Regions from separate parts of the Homo sapiens genome. Here regions 2 and 3 are each linked to region 1. The links come from fine-mapping of genetic effects on gene expression. A gene starts in region 1. Each other region holds a variant in brackets. All regions are shown on one strand. Distances are from middle to middle. Region 1 holds the start of BOK (BCL2 family apoptosis regulator BOK). Region 2 overlaps THAP4 (THAP domain containing 4). Region 3 overlaps THAP4 (THAP domain containing 4).

What was found. PIP is the estimated chance that this variant, and not a neighbour inherited with it, causes the effect.
Region 2: its variant is fine-mapped to the expression of BOK in thyroid (GTEx, PIP 0.91).
Region 3: its variant is fine-mapped to the expression of BOK in lung (TOPMed, PIP 0.98).

What each region holds. Positions count from the first base shown.
Region 1 is chr2:241,555,514-241,563,690 of GRCh38, forward strand. BOK (BCL2 family apoptosis regulator BOK) reads left to right here and starts at 3,232. Exons shown (of 5, transcript NM_032515.5): 1 at 3,232-3,480; 2 at 3,942-4,190; 3 at 6,835-6,963. The coding sequence starts at 3,971. BOK-AS1 (BOK antisense RNA 1) reads right to left here and starts at 3,630. Exons shown (of 2, transcript NR_033346.1): 1 at 3,264-3,630. RefSeq lists silencers at 3,895-3,974, 4,005-4,074, 4,125-4,254.
Region 2 is chr2:241,625,263-241,633,439 of GRCh38, forward strand. It overlaps THAP4 (THAP domain containing 4), which reads right to left. Exons shown (of 6, transcript NM_015963.6): 2 at 7,655-8,177. Among named protein-coding and RNA genes, the nearest start is that of THAP4, 7.8 kb to the right of the region's middle. The variant G/C (reference allele first, on the strand shown) is at 4,123.
Region 3 is chr2:241,607,054-241,615,230 of GRCh38, forward strand. The region is part of intron 2 of THAP4 (THAP domain containing 4); the gene reads right to left. Among named protein-coding and RNA genes, the nearest start is that of THAP4, 26 kb to the right of the region's middle. RefSeq lists enhancers at 1,411-1,580, 2,487-2,988, 2,989-3,489, 3,706-4,226 and a silencer at 2,939-3,508. The variant C/A (reference allele first, on the strand shown) is at 3,942.

The DNA.
Region 1 (8,177 bases):
TACAGACATGCGCCACCACGCCTGGCTAATTTTTTGTATTTTTAGTAGAAACGGAGTCTCACCTTGTTGGTCAAGCTGGTCTCGAACTCCTAACCTCAGGTGATCCACATGCCTCAGCCTCCCAAAGTGCTGGGATTACAGGCATGAGCCACCACGCCTGGCACACTTAGGTCATTTTCAGTTCCTTACTGCTAGCAATGTTCCATATTGAACATCCAGAGACACAGCTTTACCTGGTTTCTGCAGCTCCTGGGATGCAGAACATGTCTATCAATTATGCCCAGTGGCCCACTACCCCCATGTCAGAGCCCAGGAGACGGCTCCAACAGGAGACAGGAAGCAGGAAGTATGAGTTCATTCTGCACAGGAGGAAACTGAGCCTGTGAATGGGGCAGGAAGTTGCCTGAGGCTACACAGCGGGAAGGTTGCAGGTGTGAGCTTCCTGGTCTCCTGCCTGCAAGTACAGGCTCTTCCCCTGACAGAGGTACTTCAGGAACCATGGAGTTAGACCCCAAGGTTTACAGTCTGGCCATGCCCAGTCTTGCAGTGACTCCTTGGGCGAGATCTTTTCCCTCTCTGCATTTCTGTAATGCTATCTACAGGGAATCCCAAACCTGACTGCTCTTCAGAAATCTGAGGCGCACACTGTCCAAGGAGCTCTAGACTCTACATTAAAGAGTTCATTAAAATGCACCCTCAGATTTTACTGTACTACAGCTTTTCTGAAAAAGCAGCTAACAATGACTGAGCACTTACTACATGACATGGATTAAGAATTCAGTCCTCCCAGGCTGGGCGCTGTGGCTTACGCCTATAATCCCAGAACTTTGTGATGCCAAGGCAGGTAGATCACGAGGTCAAGAGATCGAGACCATCCTGGCCAACATGGTGAAACCCCCTCTCTACCAAAAATACAAACAATTAGCCGGGCGTGGTGTCAGGTGCCTGTAGTCCCAGCTACTCGGGAGGCTGAGGCAGGAGAATCGCTGGAGCCCAGGAGGCGGGGTTGCAGTGAGCCGAGTTTACGCCATTGCACTCCAGCCTGGCAACAGAGCGAGACTCCGTCTCAAAAAAAAAAAAAAAAAAAAAGAATTCAGTCCTCTCAACAATCCTAGGAGGTAGGTATTATTATTCTTCCTACTTCCCAGACAGGAAAGTCATAGCAGATAGAAGTTCCATAGCTTTCCTAGCTTCTGGTAATGTTCCTGACAGGTTTCGGTATTAAAATTACATTGACCTCATAAAATGAGTTGGGAAATACTCCCTCATTTTTAGTCTCTGTGCAGGTTTGTATGAGACTGGTGGTATTTTTTTAACTGTTGAGAAGAATTTCTCAATGAAACCATCTGAACCTAGAATTTTCTTTGTGGGAAGATTTTAAATTACAGATTCAATGCATTTAATTGGTGTAGGACTATCCAGATTTTCTATTTCTTTTAGTGTCAGTTTTGGTAAGTTGTGTATCATCTAAAATTTCAAATGCACTGTCAAAAAGTCCTCCATACTATCTTTTTATCCCTTTAATGCTTGTAGTATCTACAGTGATGTCCTCTTTTTCATTCTTGATAGTGAAATTTGTGTTATCTTTTTTCTTACTCAATCTTTCTGGGGATTTATCAGTTCTATTAATCTCTTCAAAGAACCAATTTTTGGCTTTGTTGATTTTCTCTATTTTTTGCTTTATTCCATTAATTTCTGCTCTTATTTTTATTATTTCCTTTCATCTTTAGTTTTATTGTTCTTTTCTAGCTTCTTGAGTGGAAGCTTAGAGCAGTAATTTTATTTTTCTTTTTCCTTTTTTTTTTTTTTTTTTGAGATGGAATCACACTCTGTTGTCCAGGCTGGAGTGCAGGTGGGATGATCTCTGCTCACTGCAACCTTCGCCTCCCAGGTTCAAGCAATTCTCCTGCCTCAGCCTCCTTAGTAGCTGGGATTACAGACACCTGCCACCACACCCAACTCATTTTTTGTATCTCTAGTAGAGACGGGGTTTTCACCATTTTGACCCGGCTGGTCTCAAACTCCTGAGCTCAGGTGATCTGCCCACCTAGGCCTCCCAAAATGCTGGGATTACAGGTCTGAGTCATTTCACCTGGCCTAATTTTCAATCCTTCTTCTAAAGCTATCAAATTTCCTCTAAGCAGTGTTTTAGTTGCACTGTACAGCATTTGATATGTCTTATTTTTCACTGTTCTTGTCAACATATTTTAATCTTCCACTGTGATTATTGACCCATTGATTATTTAGAAGTGTGACATGTAATTTCCAAGCATTTGCAGATTTTCCAGTAATTTTTCTGTTATTGACTTTTAATTCAGAGAGGACACACTGTAAGATTTCAATCCGTTGAGATTTGCTGAGACTTGTATAAGGTCCATGATATGGTCTATTTCGATAAACATCCTATGTGCACATGGGAAGAATAAGTATTTTATAGTGTTGTACACACGTGAATTAGGCCAAGTTGGTTAATCCTATTGTTCAAACTGTGTGAGGTTGATTCAAGGATAAAGAAATAAACCAGTGGGATAGAGTTCCGAGACACACACACACACACACACACACTCTTCAGCTGATTTATGTTGAGATGTTGGGGACTCCTCCAATTCGGTGGAAAAAAAATGATGCTTTTCAATAAATGATGCCAGGTCAATTGGATATCTACACGAAAAAAAATGAGCTCTAGCCCCGTACCACACCATTCACAATAATTAATATGTAATCAATCATAGATCTAAATATGAGCCCTAAAACAAGCTTCTAAAAGGAAATACAGGAGGATATCCCAATAAAAAGGTACTAACCATAAAGAAAATATTGATAAATTGGACATCACTAAGAGTAACTCCTGTTCATCCAAAGCAAAAGTAAACCACAAAATAGAGGAAGATATTTGCAATAACTTCAATAAATGCGAATCCAATAATCCATCTACAATACAAAGGGCATGCGTCCGGACCAAGAACACGTCTCCAGACTCTGGAAAGAACCTCTACGAACGAAGAAGACAACCCAATTTTCAAATGGACCCCGGGGAACACCCAGGCGGCTGGGGCTGGCTCTAGGTCCCCACTGCTCTGCCTTGCGGGGGCCGCTCCGGCCTGGTCGCCTTCTCCGGGCGCATCCAGGGAACTCGCTCGGTCCTCCTTAAGCGGGGAAGCTCGGAAAGCGTCTCCCCGACTCCGCCCCCAGGGTTGCCTTTCCCTTAGAAGGCCAAGCCCCAAGCCCAGCCTCTCGCCAGCTGGGAGTCGCGCGCTGCCCACCTCGCTGCCCAGGCCCCCGACGCCGCGGCAGGAGCCCCCCAAGAGCGCGGGAAGCCCCGTGGACCTGGCGCTCCCGGCTCGGGCGTGGACGGGGCGGGCGCCGGGGCGGGGCGCGCGTCCTCGCGGGTCTGAATGGAAGGGTCGAGGTCGTCGTCGGCGGCGAGCAGATCCTGAAGCCAGAACTCCACCCCGGCGCCCGCGCCATGCGGCGGGAGAGGTGAGCGCGGCGGGCGTGGCGTCCGTGCCGGGGTGCCCGGGGTGCCACGGGAACGGCGAGGCCGGGGACACGCGCGCAGGACGCCAGCGGCGGAGGTGGGCGGCCCCGGGCCGGGGCGGGGAGGGCCGGGTCCTGGCAGTCGCCGTGGGGGACGCGCTGGGCTGTGCCCTCCGCCCCCGCCGCCCACGCACTCGTCTTCGAGGGCGGGCCCGGCGGCCCCGGAGCAAACCGCCGTCTCCCCGCGGCCCCACCGGTCCCTGGCAGCCTCGGGGAATGTCTGTAGCTGAATTCGGGCTCTGAAAGAAGGTGGCGCTGGGTTTTTAAAGATTTGGGGCACAAAAAACGAGAGCGGACCCGGCGCCGGCTACGGCCCTTCCCGAGGGCCACGCCCAGCCCGGCGCCCCGCGCGCCCCGTTCCCCGCGCCGCCTCCCTCCACCCGGCTGAGCGCTTGTGCCCGCAGGTGCGGCGCCCCCCACCCGCGTCGCCGCCATGGAGGTGCTGCGGCGCTCCTCGGTCTTCGCCGCCGAGATCATGGACGCCTTTGACCGCTCGCCCACAGACAAGGAGCTGGTGGCCCAGGCCAAGGCGCTGGGCCGGGAGTACGTGCACGCGCGGCTGCTGCGCGCCGGCCTCTCCTGGAGCGCGCCCGAGCGTGCCGCGCCGGTCCCGGGACGCCTGGCTGAGGTGTGCGCGGTGCTGCTGCGCCTGGGTGAGTGCGCCCTGGTGGGATCCCCAGCTGCGCCTCCTCCCCTGCTGGGCCGCAGCCTCCCTCCGAGGCCGAGATGGGGGTCCGGCCCAGGGGCGCCCACCCCCTGCCTGGGACGGCCAGGCGCTCGGGACAGGGCCACCCAGGCGGGTGCTCCCGGATCTGCCCTCTCAGGCCTCCCACGCCACAGGCCCCCCCATCAGCTGCCTGCTCAGCCCAGATTTCAGTCATGCTGGCCATAAACAATAGAAAGCTCCAGAAAGAATAATCTATTAGTGGGTGGCTAAGCTTCCACAGTGACCCTTGTTCTCAGCTGGGCACAGAAACCCTTTGTAGGAGCACGTGTCCCGATGTTTATTTTGGAAAACAGATTCTTGCTGTTACTGGCCGAGATCCCGCCCGCTGCCCTCTGGATTCCGAGGCCTCCGAGGCCCCCCCATTGGAAACTGCGCCCACCGGGCTGGGTAGCCAAAACCTCAGTATTCGTTGGTGCTGTGAGGACATCTGGGGGTGCTCGGTTCTGGGGTCACACACGGTCCACTGGCTGCCCCCACCGTCTCCAAGGTCTGGACCCAAGAGGGAGGGACCAGCCCCACTGTGACTGTCCAGTCCCCTCACCACAGCTGGGCTGTGGCCGTCACCTGGGAATGTTTATGTGATGCCCGAAGAGGGCACATGGGGCGCCTGTGGCTGAGCCCGGGAAGGGGAGGTGACAGCATAGGTGAAACTGAATCGGTGGCTCTCCAGGCAGGGGGTTGGAGTCGGAGGGCACGACCCCGTGAGGGGACACGCTGCCTCCTCTCAGGCTGGCGCTGGCATGGGCTCTAGGTGGCCCCTGCCCTTACGTGGTGGGCTGGGCCCAGAGAGCAAAGCTGTGTAGACCTGGCCTGCCCAGGAGTGTGTGTGGGGTGCAGACAGAATCCATGGGGACCAGCACAGAGCCTCCAGGAGGAGGTGGAGTCCCATCTGAGAAGTTCAGAAGGAGGGAGAGGTCTCTGGGTGGGAGCTAGGGGGTTGGTGGGGCTCCATGAGATCCGCCGCCTGCTGCTGCCTCTAGTCGGGCTCTGAGAATGACCCTAGGGGATCCTTTTAGTGGCCTTCTGAAAAGATGATGCCAGACCCCTGGAATGGCTGGGAAGAAGTCCCAGATGTCTAGGGGGACCCCAGAGGGACACAGCTCAGACCTGCATCTGCCCTCACGGCTGCTCAGGGTCAGTCCCTTGAGGCCAGCGCTGTCTCCCTGCCCTTGGGCAGTGCAGACAGGAAGAAGCCCGGGTTGTGTCCCCACCTTCAGTCTGGGGCCAGCCTGCAGCAGCCCCGGAGATCTGTGTTTGGGAGCTGCCGGGTCAGTCCTGGGAATTTCCATGTCGTCCCCCGCCCCCAGCCAGCCTCTCATGGGCTCTGCTCTGCTTCCAGATCTTAATTAATGAGATACAGAGCAGCCTTTATCAGCTGGGATGGTCCGGTCAGCAGCATTACCCTGTTTGCTTTGGCTGGAGAACTGGCCGGGCTGCGGACTCCCAATCCCAGGGCCCTGTGGCATTCTCGGCACCATCTGCCCCGTGCCTGTGCGCTGCTGCTGCCAAGGGTGCCACAGGCAGCACTGGGGCGGTGGGCCTGTAGGGGCCATCCTCGGCTGCCAGGGGCAGGGCTGATGCAGTGCCACCTCCAAGCACATCCCCTTGGCAGCAAGAGCCCAGGTGGGAGCGTGGCAGTGAGGGTGGCCCAGGACAGCGGCCCAGCCAGCCCAGGTGGGAGCGTGGCAGTGCGGGTGGCCCAGGACAGGGGCCCAGCCAGCCCAGGTGGGAGCGTGGCAGTGCGGGTGGCCCAGGACAGCGGCCCAGCCAGCCCAGGTGGGAGCGTGGCAGTGCGGGTGGCCCAGGACAGGGGCCCAGCCAGCCCAGGTGGGAGCGTGGCAGTGCGGGTGGCCCAGGACAGCGGCCCAGCCAGCCCAGGTGGGAGCGTGGCAGTGCGGGTGGCCCAGGACAGGGGCCCAGCCAGCCCAGGTGGGAGCGTGGCAGTGCGGGTGGCCCAGGACAGCGGCCCAGCCAGCCCAGGTGGGAGCGTGGCAGTGCGGGTGGCCCAGGACAGCGGCTCAGCCTCTGCATCTGAGTGGTCCCTGAGCCATGCTAGGGCCTGAGCCGGGCTCTCGGGCTGTCCCCTGCTCTCACCCCAATGCTTTCTCTGCCCAGCCCCTCCCCACGTCGGGCTCCCCTGCTCTCACCCCAGTGCTTTCTCTGCCCAGCCCCTCCCCACGTCGGGGTCTGGCCGTCTGCCTGGTCCCTCCTGCTCTGGGCAGCTCGGCTGCCTGTCGGCTGTGAGTCACCAGCAGGCACGGCCCACGCTCTCGCAGGATTCCCGCCCCACCGGCTTGGCCGGCTAGGCTTAGGGGCTGGCTCGTCAGAGGGGCGGGACTGGGGGCGCCTTCAGTACTTCCTTGGTCTTCTGGTCCCTAGGGGCCAAGGTTGGGGGATGGCCCAAGGGAGGTCAGATGGGGTCAAGTGGAGGTGGGAATCAGACAAGTGAGGAACAGGCTGGAATTCAAGCATGGTCAGGTGGGGGTCAGGTGCAGGGTGTGCCCCAAGCCAGTCGTGTCCCAGGAAGCTGGGACGTGGGCTGCCTCTCACCTGCTCTTGTGACCACACAGGCGATGAGCTGGAGATGATCCGGCCCAGCGTCTACCGCAACGTGGCGCGTCAGCTGCACATCTCCCTGCAGTCTGAGCCTGTGGTGACCGATGCGTTCCTGGCCGTGGCTGGCCACATCTTCTCTGCAGGTATGCCCAGCCTGCCCGTCCCATGGGACCTCAGGGAGGGATCCAGGGTCTGTGGCTCAGGCTCACAGGGACCCCACGAGCTGGCCCCCACCCATCCTGGCGCTGCCCAGTGCCCACCGGTGCCATCTCACTGCTGCAGGTGTCAGGAGCTGCCCAGCCACCAGCGTGGGCTCAAACCACAGCATTCAGGGTCTCTTGTGGTTCTGCAGGCTGGTGGGCATGCTGAGCAGCTGGCACAGGCTTCTTGATTGGTTGTAGTTGTGGTCCAGCATCCGTGGGGCCGCGTGACCTGCAGTCCTGTGGGGTGGCACGTCCTAGGGCTGCCTGGTTTCCTGCAGGGGCCCCCGAGCGGGGCTTGGGCTTCTCACAGCATGGTGCTGTGTCCCAAGGAGGAGTGGCAAGGAGCAGGTTTCCCAGACAGCTCCCGAGTAGATGCTGCCAGGCTGTTAGGATATACCCTCAGAAGTCACGGGTAACTCTGCTGGATTCTGATGGTCAGAAGCGAGCCTCAGGGCTCCAGCGTCCAGGAGAGGGGAGAGCATGGGGGTCCAAGCAGACTGGCTCCCGGAGGGCATCCGGAGAACAGCAGCGCATCTCACCTGGCTGTGCCTGCCTCACCTGTGACCCTCCTGTGCGCTCCCATCTCTGCCCTGGAGAGGCATCTCCTGGCCCTGCCTCCCTGCTCCTGCTGCTCCCGGCTGTCCACATGCTTCTAGGCCCACGGGAGGCTTAGGGCTTGTCTCCCCTACTCGGTGCCCGCTGTCCACTTGTCCAGCTGCCTTGGCCTGGATTTGCCCAGTGTGGCTTCTGTCCGCTTGCCCCATGTCATCAGGTCTGGCCCTGCAGACCTCAGCCCCCTGCCTTTGACCTCTGTGACCTTGGGTCCTGTCCTGGCACCCCGTGCTATGAGCTGCCCCTGGGTGTGGCAGGCGCTGGGTGCTGCTGTTGGGGTGAGTGGTGCGCCGGCCCTGATGTGGCACCTCCCTGATTGGCACATTCCTCAGCTGTTTTCCAAGTGCTGTCCAGGTGCTGGGCACAGCTCTGGGCCAGTGAACCCCGGGGTGCGCAGGATTCCCTGAAGCTTGGAGGAGGGGCATGCTGTTCCCCTGGGGCAGTTTTTTGGAAGACCCCTGACAGCAGGGAGGCCTTGCACACCCTTGTCTGGGAGCTGGTGTGGGTCCGTGGCCAGTCAGCTGTGTGACTGTGGCCTGCTG
Region 2 (8,177 bases), 70 kb after region 1:
CCAGGAGTTCGAGACCAGCCTGGGCAACAGGCTGGGACCCTGTCTGTACAAAAATATTAAAAAACTAGCCAGTGTGACGGCACGTGTCCATAGTCCCAGCTACTCGAAAGGCTGTGGCAGGTGGGTCACCTGAGCCGAGGAGGTTGAGGCAGCAGTGAGCCGAGGTCACACCTCTGTACTATGCACTCCAGCCTGGGTGACAGAGTGAGACACTGTCTCAAAAAAAAAAAAAAAAAAGGAAAAAGGAAAAAGAGTCCAGGTGTGTGGATCACGCCTGTAATCCCAGCATTTTGGGAGGGTGAGGCAGGCAGATCACGAGGTCAGGAGATCGAGACCATCCATGGCTAACACAGTGAAATCCCGTCTCTACTAAAAAATACAAAAAATTAGCCGGGCGTCATGGCGGGCGCCTGTGGTCCCAGCTACTAGGGAGGCTGAGGCAGGAGAATTGCTTGAACCCGGGAGGTGGTTTTTGCAGTGAGCTGAGATCGTGCCACTGCACTCCAGCCTGGGCAACAGAGCAAGACTCCGTCTCAAAAAAAAAAAAAAAAAAAAAAAAAAAGAAAAAAGAAAACTACAGACAAATATCTCTCATGAACACAGATGCAAAAATCTCTAAGAAAACATTTGCGATTGAATAAAAAAAATGTATAAAAAGAATTATTTGCCATGACCCAGTGAGATCTATTCCAGGTATGCAAGGCTGGCTCTGTGCTCTAAAATTGATTAACGTAACCCGTCACATCAACAGGCAAATCATCTGACCGTAAATCACAGGATCACATTAATAGGTGCAAAAAAATCATCTGACACATTCCAACATCCCATTCATGATAACAGCTCTCAGCAACAGGAATAAATGGGAATTCTGTCAACTTGATAAAGGACATATAAAAAAACTACAGCTTGGTGGCTCACGCCTGTAATCCCAGCACTTTGGGAGGCTGAGGCGGGCAGATCATGAGGTCAGGAGATCGAGACCAGCCTGGCCAACATGGTGAAATCCCATCTCTACTAAAAATACAAAAATTAGCTGGACATGGTGGCACATGCCTGTAATCCCAGCTACTTGGGAGGCTGAGGCAGGAGAATTGCTTTAACCAGGGAGTCGGAGGTTGCAGTGAGCCTAGATATCGCCATTGCACTCTAGCCTGGGCAACAAGAGCGAAACTACGTCTCAAAACAAAAACAAAAACAAAACAAAACAAAAAAACAAAAACCAAAAAACAACAACAAAGTACTACAGCTCACATCATAAGGAGGAAAAAAAACACTGTTATTATTTCTGCTATTTCTTAACAGTTTTTGTTTTTTTTTTTTAGACGGAGTCTCGCTCTGTCACCCAGGATGGAGTGCAGTGGCGTGATCTCGACTCACTGCAACCTCCACCTCCCGGGTTCAAGTGATCCTCCTGCCTCAGCCTCCTGAGAAGCTGGGATTACAGGCACGTGTCACCATGCCCAGCTAATTTTTGTATTTTTAGTAGAGACAGGGCTTCACCCTGTTGGCCAGGCTGGTCTCAAACTCTTGACCTTAAGTGATCTGCCTGCCTCGGCCTCCCAAAGTGTTGGGATTACAGGCATGAGTCACTGAGCCCAGCTAATCTGGATTTTTGAACAACTTTATATTGTGAAAAATCTTGAACATTACAAATTAAACAGATTAGTGTAATAAATCCACACACATGTCCCTAGTTTCACCATTTATCACTCTTCTGACATTCCTGTTTTGTCTGCACTTCTCCAAACTCTTCAGCTTCCATTTATTATTTATTAACAGATTGTTTTTAGGACAGAAAAATCCAGCAGGTAGTACAGAGAATTCCTTCACCCTCTCACCCCCTGCCCTGTTCCCCTATGATTAACATCTTGCATTAGTGTGGGTATGTGTGTCTCAAGTTACGAACCAATACTGATTCATTGCTACAAATAGGGTCCATAGTTTACATTAAGGTTCACTTGTTTTGTACTTGGATTTTGACAATCCAGATTTCAAGAATTATATGTAGATAATGAATCCATAAAGGAATAAAAAGAAAACAGATTTTGAAGCAAGTGTTAAATTGCTGAACTTAGGAAACAGGTGAATAATATTTAACAGGCGTTGGTATCCTTACTGTATCAAGAACGTTTATAACTCAGTGGGCAAGCAAGACCGCGAACACGTGGTTCATAGACGTGCTAACAATGTACCCTCAAGGAATCGCTGCTGGCGGAGAAGAACACTACGTCCACAGAACGCCACCGGGCACTGCCTCTGGAGCGTGGCTTCAACCCACCTCTGAAGCCCACTGGCCCGCATCCTTCAGTTTGGGGAACCTGCCCAAAAGCAGACACTGGCTAGCGAGCTGAATAGACAAGTGTGCGGCGCTTTCCACATAAATCCCTAAAGAATGACCCAAAGAGTCTGTCACTGAAGAACAAATCCACACGGACAGCAAGAACCACAGAGTGCAGACCCCAGGGCCTGCGACGCCGGCGTGACAGACTGCAACCCCAGGGAGAGGATGTCCTCTCCCCACCACACCCTCGCTCCTGCCACCCCTGTGCCCACACCGCATGCCCAGCCGTGGCCTGGCCTCACCTTTGGAGGGGCACAAGGCATGCAGGGTGGTGCCTGCACCTGTCCCTTGCTCTCCAGAGCCTGGCCCTTCACAGCCCTCCCCACTGACACACTCTCTTTGGAGCCACACTCCCTCTGGCTCCTGTCTACTTGCCTCACTCCACTTCACGGCCAAACCTGGCCCTGACCCCTCATCACTGGCCCCCTCTCCGCCCAGCTCCACCAGCCTCTCCAGTGAGATTCCAGTAACCAGCGACCCTGGGAGCACATCCAACCCCCTTCTCTCCACTATCCTGGGGCACATCCAGCCCCCTTCTCTCCATTCTGGTCAGAGTAGCACCCAGCACAGCAAGTCACCCTTCTTTCCTGAACAACCCCTCAGCCTTCCCCTGGACCCGCCTCGGCTGCCCCTCTCTCAGCGAGGCCTGCTCCTGGGCCGGGCACTGAAGCCCAGCCTAGAACCACACTCGACCCCCCAAGGCTTCAAACACCTCTGCCCTCCACCCCCACACTCACATGCCCAAATCCCAGAGGCCAGCTGCTGGCCTCAGACTGCCTGTTCAAACTCTGGCCTCAGCACCCAAGAGCATCTCAAACTCCGTTCCTCACCCCCATCTCCTGCTCCTCCCCAAAAGCCTCTCCCACTTAGCATCCTCCAGGTGCTCAAGCCTAATCCCTGTAGCTGGCCTGCTGATCTTTTGCCTCTCAACCCCCTGAACCCAGCCAGTACTCCAGCATTGCTACCACCGCCACTTCCTCCCTAAAGTCTGAGCCATCGCCATCTACCCTGGGACTGCCACAACAGTCACCAGCGCCCCCCTCAAAACTGTACTGGAATAGGATTTTTTTTTTTTAAAGTCATGGCTGGGTGCGGTGGCTTACCTGGCCAACATGGCAAAACCCCATCTCTACAAAAAAAAAAACAAAAAACAAAAAAAACAAAAAAACAAAAAAACACACAAAAAATTAGCCGGGCATGATGGCACATGCCTGTAGTCCCAGCTACTCAGGAGGCTCAGGTGAGAGGATCGCTGGAGCCCAGGGGGTCGTGGCCGCAGTAAGACGAGATCATGCCACTGCACTCCAGTCTGAGATTGTCTCAAAAAAAAAAAAAAAAAAAAAAAGTCATTAAATACTGCCAAAAAGGAGGGGAAACTTGGATACAGCAAACAATGGTAAATAAAGTAACCAGTAAAATGTATACTTCAATCTAATAATCATGGTTGCTTGATGGGGGAATAAGAAGCACCGGAACTAAGATGACATACAGCCTCCACCTAGGGAAGGTGGCACACAGGACCGATCAGCTCTCAACAGTTACACAAAGAGGGGCTCACGTGTTTGTTTTTAAAACTGAAAGATGGGCTGGGCACAGTGGCTCACAATTATAAACCCAGAGCTTTGGGAGGCTGAGACGGGAAGATCCCTTGAAGCCAAGGGTTCAAGACCAGCCCAGGCAACATAGTAAGACCCTATTGCTACAAAAAATTTTAAAAATTAGCCGGATGTGGTGGTATGTGCCTGTAGTCCCAGCTACTCGAGAGGCTGAGGTGGGAGGAT[G/C]GCTTGAGCCCAGGAGGTCAAGGCTGCAGTGAGCTGTGATAGGACCACCACACTCCAGCCTGGGTGACAGAGCAAAGCCCTGTCTCTTAAAAAAAAAAAAAGAAAAGAAAAAATTGAAACATATCCACTAGAAGAATAATAAGAAAACGGTGAGGAAGCCTAACAAATTAAAAAGGTAGGCCCGAATTCCCACTTATCAGTAATCACAATTGTAAATGACTAAATTACTCTACAAAAAGACTTTTGGATTGAGTTAAAAATATAACTATAAAATAAGATGAAAAGGTTGAAAATAAGGAAATGAAGAAATAAGACGTTAAACGGGACAAAAAGGAGTTTCTTGTGTTGGTAACAGGAAAACTTATGCATCAAACAGCATGGTCTTGAGGCAGAAAGCAAAACTTGGACATACAAGCAGAAACGGGCACCTCCAGAACCACAGGGGAGGTCTACCTCACCTTTCCTGGAAATCAGCAGACCGAGAGCCTGACAAGAAGCTAGGGAACGCTCTGGTCCGCTGACTAACACAAGTAAGCAAGTGCCCAGCTTCAGGCGGGAACAATATAACCAAGGAGTGGTGAGGATACATTCTTCTAGCACTACACTGCAACAGTCACAAAAAGGGACTGTGTTAGCCACAGTGAAGTCTCAAAGGATTCCAAAAAGCAGAACTCCTTCAGTCCTTACCATTAGACCTTAATGCAATCAAATTTTAAAGTAACTACAAAAAAATTTGCTCCCCTCGCCCAATCTGTGTGCACTGAAAAATCTGTCAACACCCTTTTAAATAACCACAGGGTTAAAGGGGGCATCGAGGCTGGAATTACAAACGACTCAGAAATGAACAGCAACAAAAGCAGAGAGAGGCAGATCCATGGCACGCAGCCCAAGGAACAGCAGAGCCACAGCCTCCATTGCAGGGTTAAGGAACACGCCAGGAACCAGAACTACAAGAAAAAACCCAACAAAGCAAAAAGATGTAAGGATTAACCAGCATAAACAACAACTCAGAGACACGAAGGGCTGGCTGTTTGCAAAAACCTGTAATGGAGACAAACTTCAGGAAGTTTAACCAAGAGGAACAGAGAGAAGCTGTCTAAAGCAGCATTAGCTCTGATAACTACAAACAGCTTTAAAATTCCAAGAGAAGCTGGGAGGCCGAGGCGGGTGGATCACCTGAGGTCGGGAGTTCGAGACCAGCCTGACCAACATGGAGAAACCACTGTCTCTACTAAAAATACAAAATTAGCTGGGTGTGGTGGCGCATGCCTGTGATCCCAGCTACTCGGGAGGCTGAGGCAAGAGAATTGCTTGAACCCGGGAGGTGGAGGTTGCGGTGAGCCAAGATTGCACCATTGCACTCCAGCCTGGGCAACAAGAGCAAAACTCCGTCTCAAAAAAAAAAAAAAAAAATTCCGAGAGAAGGCCTGGTGTGGTGGCTCACAACTGTAGCCAACATGGTGAAACATCATCTGTACTAAAAATATAAGAATTAGCCAGGTGTGGTGATAGGGGCCTGTAATCCTAGCTCCTTGGGAGGCTGAGGTAGGAGAATTGCTTGAACCCAGGAGGCAGAGGTTGGAGAACTGCTTGAACCCGGGAGGCAGAGGTTGCAGTTAGCTGAGATCTCACCACTGCACTCCAACCTCGGCAACAGAGTGAGATGCCATCTCAAAAAATAAAATAAAATTCCAAGAGAAAAACAGTATACAATTTCAACCCAAGAATCCGAAAATCTAGATTTGATCTGAAAATCTAGGTCAGCAGTACTCAGTGGCACCGTTCCTCCCCAGGACACATCTGGAGAACATGTCGGATGGGCTTTGTTTTCGGTTGTGCTAATAGCTGTTACCCTGAGGATCCAGGAGGTCCTGAAAATCTTGTCCCACTATCATATACTTATTGACAAGCATTGATCCAGATGAAATCAACAATGTGGTAGGAATATGGTTTTCCTATGTACACGACAGGCAAAGGAAACCATCCGCCATATGTAAACATCTAGAAACCAATTTTAAGAAATACTTAACAGTAAAATATGGGAAAAAACAGAAATAGAGCTAATATACATACAAAGATTACACAGGAAATTTTGTTTTTTGAGACAGGGTCTCACTGTCACCTAGGCTGGAGTACAGTGGTGCAATCACAGCTCACTACAGCCTCGACCTCCCAGGCTCAAGCTATCCTTCTGCCTCAGTCTCCCAAGTAGTTGGGACCACAGGCGTGCACCATGGTACTCGGCTAATTTTTAAATTATTTATAGAGATGGGGTCTCCCTATGTTGCCCAGGCTGGTTTGAACTTCTGGACTCAAGTAACCTTCCCTCTTCGGCCTCCCGAAGTGCTGAGATTACAGGCAAGAGCTACTGTGCCTGGCTTACACACCAAATTTTTAATAACAACAAGGAATAGAACTTGGGAGGTGGATGACAAACAATAATTTTTTTACCACTTCTTAGTCTATTTCTGCAGTTTTAATTTTTGCAACAGAGAATGTATTGTATTTCTTTTTTTTTTTTTTTCTCTTTTGAGACAGAGTTGTGCTCTTTGTCACGCAGGCTGACAAAGAGTAGTGCAGTGGTGCCATCTCAGCTCACTGCAACCTCCGCCTCCCAGGTTCAAGCTATTCTCCTGCCTCAGCCTCCTGAGTAGCTGGCATTACAGGAGTGTGCCACCATGCCCGGCTGAGAATGTGTTTCAATAGATGTGTGTCTTTTTTTTTTGGAGACAGAGTCTTATTCTGTCACCCAGGCCAGAGTGAAGTGGTGCAATCCTGGCTCACAGCAACCTCTGCCTCCCAGGTTCAAGCAATCCACCTGCCCCAGCCTCCCCAATAACTGGGATTACAAGCGTGCACCACCATGTGCAGCTAGTTTTTGTATGTTTTAGTAGTATGTTTTTGTATGTTTCACCATATTGGCCAGGGTGGTCTCGAACTCCTGACCTCAAGTGATCTGCCCACCTTAGCCTCCCAAAGTACTGGGATTACAGGTGTGAGCCACCGAGTCCAGCCTCAACAGATGTTTTAATTGAATAGATGTTAAAATAATTATTAATGTTCATGATGATTTAACTTCAAGGATATTCCTTAAAACGTGAACAGAAAGAACCTCCTCATGATTTTAACAGTTTCTGATATTTGCTTTTTCTGAGAGTTTACTCTCTTATTTTCCATCTAGTTCCTAACTCATCTGGAATTTCTGTTGCATAAGGTATGAAACAGAAGCTATCTTTCCCTGTGCACTCTCCACGGAGGCGTTCAGGCACTCCTGGCTGACGCGTGCTGCCTGCCTCCTTCACGGCCTACATCCCTACACACACAGATGCCTCTTGTGGGACCAGGTGCAGTGAGGCCTGCTTTCTAACCTGGATTCCCTCATCCACAAGGTATGGTTACGACCAGAGCTTCCTCCTGAGAGCGCAGGGAGCTTGTGACACCTCCCAGAAATGCTCAGGGGACGCTGGCCACCTTGCAGAGAAACCCCTCCTAACGGGAAGGGAACATGGGTACGCGAGGCTCCGGTACTGACCGCGGCTGGGCGACAGCAGGCTACTTGGATAGGGGACGCTCACTCTCCTCAGCTCATCCAGCTTCTCCTGTAGCTTCCGCACCTGGCTGTCGGAGCGGCTGACCCTCTGCCGCAGGCTCTTCAGCTCGCCGTTCTTCTTCTCCACCTGCTCCCGCAGGCAGCACACCTGGCTCTTGTTCTGCCGGGAGGAGAAGCAGTAGGAGTGCAGTGAGTCGATGAGCTTGCAGGCCCCTGACGCCGACAGGATGACCTCGTTGATGGACATGGGGCTGGCGTCGCTGTGCTCGCTCTGCACGGCTTCCGTGGCTGGCTTTGGGGTGACGTCGGCAGGAGGGGCAGAGGGGCTCTGGGAAGGCTTCTGCGGTGTCGCGGTAAGTGATGAGCTGGGAGGGCTCTGGGCCAGGCCCTTGTCGGGTCCCAGGCTGCTCCCACTGCAGCTTGGTTCCACATCTTTCTTCAGCCTCTTGCGGTCAATGGGCTCTCGGGGGACAGATGGCCTTTCTCGGGTGTGCTTAGAGGAGAA
Region 3 (8,177 bases), 52 kb after region 1:
AAAGGGAAGTAAGACCCCGCTTCCCTGAGGAGGGGCTGGGGCTTCACAGCAGCCTGTGTAGTGGCCAGGAGACCCCTTTAGAAGGTCTCCTGTGGGGTTCAGTCTCTCATCCCACTAAGTGTGAAGGATGACACCACAGGCCTGGAACTCAGAGGTGGGGGTGCAGTGACAGGACAGCAGGGAGGGGCCGCTGGGTTGGCTGTTCTGCTGGGCGAACTCAAAGGGACCCCTGCTTCCTGCCTCGCTCAGCAAGGACTGGGTGCTCCCGAGCGGCTTTTCAGGATTCACTCACATGACCCTCACCCTGGCTGGATGCACGGGCCCTGCTCTTACTCATTTTCTAAGGGAGACCTGTGCGGGGACCACAGGAAAGCCCCACTGCATGCTACCCATCAGGGGCGCTGGAAGAGAAGGACTGATCCCCAGAGGCAATCCCAAAGACCTGCTTCCCAGGCCTGCTTAACCCTCAAGTCTCAGTGCTTCAATTGACAGAACGGACACTGACACCCAGGAGCAGCAGCAGGGACAGAAGCAGCTCTGTGGCCGCACAAGCCTCATCTACGGAGCCCAAAGATGCCCAAGCACAGAGACCGGCCTGCACATCAGGACTGACCCCCGGCGTCTCCTCCAGGCCCGCGCAAGCAGAAGACGGACTGACGGGGACAGGATCAGGACTGACCCCCAGTGTCTCCTCCAGGCCCGCGCAAGCAGAAGACGGACTGACGGGGACAGGATCGGACTGATGCCCAGTGTCTCCTCCAGGCCCGCGCAAGCAGAAGACGGACTGATGGGGACAGGATTGGACTGACCCCCAGTGTCTCCTCCAGGCCCGCGCAAGCAGAAGACAGCTGACGGGGACAGGATCAGGACTGACCCCCGGCGTCTCCTCCAGGCCCGCAAAAGCAGAAGACAGACTGATGGGGACGGGATCAGGACTGACCCCCAGTGTCTCCTCCAGGCCCGCGCAAGCAGAAGACGGACTGACGGGGACAGGAGTTCTTGGAACCATCGCAGCTTCTGAAATTACACAACCTTTGGATTATAAATTCCAGGAAGTCTGGGAAAAGAAGATCGGGGGAAAGGAAAGCAAAGGCTCTGGGGGTGGAGGAGACCACGTCCAAGAACAGCTTGGAACCAAGGAGGGCCGCACATGTGGCCTGGCCCAGTGGCCGAGCCCTGGGGCCCAGAGTGAGAACCGAGGGTGGAGAGCAGGTAATGAGCACTCTGCCTGCTGGCTGCACAGGGCAAACATAGGTGACCTGAAGCAGGAGAGTGGGAGAGTCCGCTCCTTTTCCAGACTGGCCTGTGGTCTTTCAGTATTTCCTTTTTTGTTTTTCTTAAATGATGATTTAAAAATTTTTTATATCAGTATTTCCTCCTCAGACTCCCGGTGAAAAGTGGGAAGGTGAGGATGGGAATATTTGGACTTCAATAAAACTTTCCTAATTAGACAATAAGAGAATTTTTAAATCAAGATTTTCGTTGCAATCTTTCACGGAGATAAGGAATAGAAGCTTCTGAATCCAATGTGTGGCCTCTGGAACGAGGCTTGTGATCTATCATAGCTGATCAATTCTTTCATCATTCAACGTGCTGGACACTCTTCCAGGGAGAAGCTGACGGAACAGTCATACATCCCTACGGAGCATACATCCTAGCGAGGGCAGACAATACACAAGAAATGAGTGAATGATGCAGAACTGAATGTACATTAGGAGATGAGGCAGAAAGGGAGACAGGGCTGTTGGGGCACTGTGAAAACCTACCCAAAAGGGACAAGGACACCCTCCCTGAGAAGTGTGCACAGACCAGGCAGGGGATCAGGGTCCCTGCAGCTACCCTGGAGAAGAGCAGACCAGGTGGAAGTGCCAGAGACGGAGGTCCTGGGTACGTAGGCCTGGTCTTGCTGGAGAGGAACAGGAGGCCAGTGTGGCCAGGGGAAGGAGATCCTCACCCCTCGGAAGGGCCGTGACCTTGACTCTGAGCAGACAGAAGCCCTCGAGAAGGCTGAGTGGGAGGGACGAGGTCTCTGACTGCAACCACAGGAAGCCAGGGAGGGCAATGGCAAAAACCCTTGTGGCAGAGGAGGGTGGCCTGGGCCAGGTGGCCGTGGTGGAGGCAGTGGAAAGGACCTAGCTTCTGGATCTATCTTGAAGGCAGAGCCACCCGGATGTGCTGATGGTTTGGATGTGAAACACGTAAGAAAAGATGGTAACGGAGGTTTCTGGCCTGAGCAATTGAGAAGACAAGTTACCATTAATGGAGAAAAGGAAGAATGAGAAGAACCTTGGGAGGTGTGAAACAGCAAAACTCAGTCACCTGGGATAGCCCAAGTCCTAAGATGGGCTAAACAAACACCATAATTTCTCAGACAGCCAGCTATAGCCTTGGAGACCTTTCAGTTTGGTAGACTTTATCCAGCTCAGCACTGAAAAGAAAGAGGCTTTGGGCCGGGCGCAATGGCTCACTGAACCTGTAATCCCAGCACTTTGGGATGCCGAGACGGGCAGATCACCTCAGGTCAGGAGTTTGAGACCAGCGTGGCCAACGTGGTGAAACGCTGTCTCTATTAAAAATACAAAAATTAGCCGGGCGTGGTGGCACACGCCTGTAATCCCAGTTACTCGGGAGGCTGAGGTACAAGAATTGCTTGAACCCGGGAGGCGGAGGTTGCAGTGAGCCGAGGTCGTGTCACTGCTCTCCAGCCTGGGCGACAGAGACGTTTTCTCAAAAAAAAAAAAAGAAAGAAAGAGGCTTTGCAAACCTCAGGTTTTTGGGCCGGCTCTCTGGCCTGTGCGGAGCACACCCCACAGCGACTGCCACGGGGCTCTGGCTCTCCTGGGACCGGGTGGACCCACTTCCACTGGTGAGCGCAGCCTGCATGGGAGCTGAACCCTGTGGGAAGCGGCACCCCGGGCGCTGGGGAGCAGCGATCCAGAGTCCAGGTTCTGAGCTGCTGCACCGGGGCCGCGATCTCCACCCCTCACGCCCGAGTCCCCGGCACGGCCACCACCGGCCCCTGGGTCCCGAGGGCCCCGAGGAAGAGGCCAAGGGGCCTGGCGGCGCCCCCCAGGGTCCCAGTGGAACAGGGGCACCAGGGCCGCGGCGCCGGGCATGGCCTTCACACTCCCCACGAGGCAGGACAGCCCCGGGCTAGGGTGAGGGGCACGCGCCGCAAGTCCTGCCTCTGCTCCCGGGCGGCCCCCTCCAGCCTCCGCCGGCCCCGCCCCGGAAGCGCAGCCCCGCCTCAGGCGCCGCATCTCCGCCCTCTCTTGCGCCTGCGGGACCGGGAGGGCCGCGCTCGCCCCCCAGCGCCAGGGTCACGCCACCGCGCCCTGTTTGGGGAGCGGCAGAGGAGTCAGGGCGGAGGCTGGGCGGCGCTGGGCGGTGGGGCGCGCTCACTGGCTGCCACCTCACCTAGCAGGCGTCACAGGGCTCACTCAAGAGCTCCAGCAAGAGCAGAGGCGGGAGCCTCGCCAGCCCCTCCACAGACCACAGCGACCGCGCCCCTCGGCCCGGAGGCCCCGCCCTCCCCACTCCTGCTTCCCCAGCCACGGGGTCTTCTCCCGGCCCCTCATCTACTTGGCAGACGCCTCTCACCGGCAGCCTCTGCCTCCCCCTGGTCTTTCCCTCCCACCACCCACCGTGGAGTCCTCTCCGGGAGGCCCTGTCCTCCATCCAGCGCTCCTCAGAGGGGACCGGAGAGGAGGCGCTCCTTAAATGGGGAAGAAAGACGGACAGAGCCAGGGACAGCGAGAGACGGGACGGGGACAGAGACACAGAGACAGAGAGACAGGGCCAGAGAGACACGGGGATGGGGCCAGAGACGGGGCCAGAGACAGAGACACAGAAAGGGATCTTACTCTTTCTTCCCTTAAAACCAGCTTCTGGGGGTCTCCGAGGGGGACTCTCAGGTAAGTAACAATATTATCACCTTCCCT[C/A]CCAAGAATTAAAAAAAACAAAAATAACGAAAAAACCTTTTCCCTGAACTTGATTTTGAGGGAAAATAGGTCACAGATACAACCCACAGCCACCAAAACACACATACGGATGCTGTGAGAAGTGGTGGGTCAGTGCCTCGCTGGAGGACAGGAGGGGCCTCTGGGAGCTGGGGGGGTGGCCCCTGAGAAGCCTCAGGGTCTGGCCTGGCTCAGAGGCCTGGGGCGGAGTGGGGAGCCCTGGACTTGGGAAGCCTGGAGGCTCTTCTGGCCCCCGCTCTGCCACAGGGAGCTCCTGCAAACAGCAGGCCCAGGGCACCCCACGCGTCTGCCCAGGACACCCCAGGTGTTCGCCCAGGTGCTGAAGGCCCAGGCTGGCCTCCATGCAGGGTTACCCACCACCCGCCATAGAGAAGTAATGCGCCACTCCGAAAGAAAGGGGTGCTGCCGGCTGGACGCAGTGGCTCACGCCTATAATCCCAGCACTTTGGGAGGCCAAGGCGGGTGGATCATCTGAGGTCAGGAGTTCGAGACCAGCCTGGCCAACATGGTGAAATCCCATCTCTACTAAAAATATAAAAAACTAGCCGGGCGTGGTGGCGGGTGCCTGTAGTACCAGCTACTAGGGAGGCTGAGGCAGGAGAATGGCATGAACCCCGGAGGCACAGGTTGCAGTGAGCCGAGATTGTGCCACTGCACTCCAGCCTGGGTGACAGGGTGAGACTCTGTCTCCAAAAAAAAAAAAAAAAAAATTAAGAAAGAAAGGCATGCTGCTCCTGAAGACCTTCTGCTTCTCCAGCAATGGACTAATGGACTCTAAGACACTGCCTGAGTTCAGAGATGGACAAAAGGTGACAAGACACCAAGTGTGAACAAGAGCAGCAAAACATACAAACTGCAAAATGTTGATGGGGCAAAGGTGAAACTAAGAGAAAGGGTCTTGCTCAGTCACCCAGGCTGGAGTGCAGTGGCATGAATACGGTTCACTGCGGCCTAGACCACTGGGGCTCAAGTGATTCTCCCGCCTCAGCCTCCCGAGTAGTTGAATGAAGCTGCTCCATGAAGAAAGACCACTAACTAAACATGTAAGAACTCAGGAGAGAAACGGCAAGGAAAGAGGAGAAGGTGAAACATGACCTGGCAGAAGTCGAGAAAGTAAAAGAAAAAAAATCAAGCCACCACCCAAATGAAGTGGAGATTGGAAGCAGCACAGGGAGAAACAAACACCGGGAAACACAGCGGAACACAGAGGACAGAAATGAGTTAAAAAAAAAGACAAAAGATAGAGAAATGGAAACAAAGTTAGAAGGACGGGAACGCCTGGCACACTGCTGATGGGGACGTGAACTGGCACAGCCTAGTGAAGACCATCTGGCATGTGCCTGAGAGGTTAAGTGTGGAGCAGTGGCCCAGGACTGCCACTCCTGGAGACATGCACTCCCAGCAGAAATGACACACCTGTCCCCACAGGACGCTGCCCATGAATGTTTACAGCAGCACCATTCCCAACAGCCCCAAAGTGGAAACAACACAGATGTCCGTCAACCAATGAGTAAACAAACTGCAGTATATCCAGACAATGGAATGTTATTTGGCCATAAAAATGAAGCACTAATATAAGCTGCAATTCAAATGGCCCTTGACAACACACCATATGAAAGCAATCAGGCTCAAAAGAGCACATATTCTGCAATTCCATTTCTGTGAAAGGTGCAGAACACACACATCTACAGAGACAGAACGTGGGTCAGTGTTTCTCCACAGCTGCGTTCTGTGGCAGAAGACGCTAGAGTCACACGTAGAAGGCGCATGAGGAGGGAAGGTGAGTGGCAAGGATGCTACGGCTGGCCACAGCGATCCTTCCAGATTGCAGGCGCGTGAGCTGGCTCACTGACACGTGCAGTGAGTGCGAGCTACAAACTAGATTCCGAAAACTCAGTCCAAAAAGTCTTCAAATAATTCAATAATCTTATAGTATGGGTGGTTGCCTGTTGAAATAATTTTTAGATAATATCGGGTTAAATAAAATATATTATTAAAATCGATTTCACTTGTTTCTTTTTACCTTTTTAATGTAGCTATTAGAAAATATTAAACTACATAAGAGACTCACTCTCTAGACCTTTTCGACAGTGCAGGAATGGAGTTTTCAACCCTTGGCACCCAAGGAGCTTTGTTTCTATGTCTTCTCCCTGAGGACATTACCAGCAGCTGGATGTCATCAGGAGACAATAGGGAAATGATGCGGAAAGAAACCTCCGTAAACACTGAATGTACTAAGCCAAAAAAAAAAAAAAAGCGGTTATAGAAACAACAAAAAAAAACTGGTTATAGGTGGTAGATGCCTGGTCGTACAGGCATGACACTCAACTCATAGGACCCTTGAAGGGGCAGAACTCCCCACTGGTCTTGTCCCTGAGAGCTGACACCACAGAGGCTTACAAATGAAGTAGCAGTGGAAGATTTCATTTTAAAAACTGGGCCGGTTGCAGTGGCTCATATCTGTAATCCCAGCCCTTTGGGAGGCCGAGGAGGGTGGATTGCCTGAGCTCAGGAGTTTGAGACCAGCCCAGGCAACATAGCAAAACACTGTCTCTACCAGAACTACAAAAAATTGGCTGGGCGTGGTGGCACGTGCCTGTCGTCCCAGCTACTCAGGAGGCTGAGGTGGGAGGATCGCTTGGGCCTGGGAGGCAGAGATCGCAATGAGCCGAGAGCACATCACTACACTCCAACCTGGGTGACAGAGCGAGACCCTGTCTCAGAAACAAAACAAAAACAAAACAAAAAAAAGTAAAACACAACAAGCATAATATAAAATAAGATGACAGAACCAAGACTAAAAATGCTTGAACTTACATATGAAAAAGCTTTTCAAGGCCGGGCATGATGGCTCATACCTATAATCCCATAACTTTGAGAGACCGAGGTGGGTGGATTGCTTGAGTCCAGAAATTCGAGACCAGCCTGGGCAACATAGTGAAACCCCATCTCTACCAGAAATACAAAAAAATTAGCCAGGCATGGTGGTGCGTGTCTGTAGCCCCCGCTACTTGGGAGGGTAGGTGGGGAGAATCACTTGCGCCCAGGAGGTTGAGGCTGCAGTGAGCCAAGATCGCGCCACTGCACTCCAGTCTGGGCAACTGGAGAGACACCCTGCCTTGAGAAAAAAAAAAAAAAAGGCTTTTCAGATTGGACCACAAAGCAAGACCCTCACCTCTTTTGCTGTAAATGAGAGATGCACCTAAAATAAAGCAATTCAGAGAGAGAGTCCAGAAAGCTGGGCAATAAGCAATAAGGAAGCAGGCTTCCCAATCTTAGCATCACGTAAAATGCATGGAACTAGACAAAGAATGGCTCTCCCGAATGAAGGGCAGAATGCACAATGAAGACGTAACCGTGAGGGATACTCATGCACCAAGCACAGCAACATCTATAAAGCAGAAATTACTGATGACACACGAAGATGTCGAGAGAAAGAAACTAAATGAAATTGCAATTCACCTCTAAGTCTGAATGAATACAAATAAAACAAAATTCCCAAATAATATAATTAATAAGGTAGTTCTGACTGATACATATTGAACTCTGTAGCTTAAAACTAGGGAATACCGCCGGGCGCAGTGGCTCACGACTGTAATCCCAGCACTTTGGGAGGCTGAAGTGGGTGGATCACCTGAGGTCAGGAGTTCGAGACCAGCCTGACCAACATGATGAAACCCCGTCTCTACTAAAAACACACAAAAAATTAGCCGGGTGTGGTGGTGCATGCCTGTAATCTCAGCTACTCGGGAGGCTGAGGCAGGAGAATCGCTTGAAACTGGGAGGCAGAGGTTGCGGTGAGCCGAGATTGCACCATTGCACTCCAGCCTGGGTGACAAGAGCGAAACTCCATCTCAAAACAAAAACAAAAACAAAAACAAAAACAAAACTAAGGAATGCCTTCTTCAAGTTCCTCTGGAACAGTCATGCAAACTGGCCTTCTAAATGGTCAAAGAAAGCCTGTAAGTTCCAGAAAGCAGAAAGAAGTCTACTGTCTGATCACAATGCAGTGAGACTAGAAATGAAAATCAATCAGGTGTCCCTTGAAAACACTGCGCGAAAAGAAAGAAGCCAGACAAAAACGTATATATTCTATGATTCCAATTAGATGAAATTCGAGACCAGGCAGAAAGGATGGAGGGTGGGGAATCTGAACGGTGACGGGGAGGGGCTTGGAGGGGAGTGCAAAGGAGAACC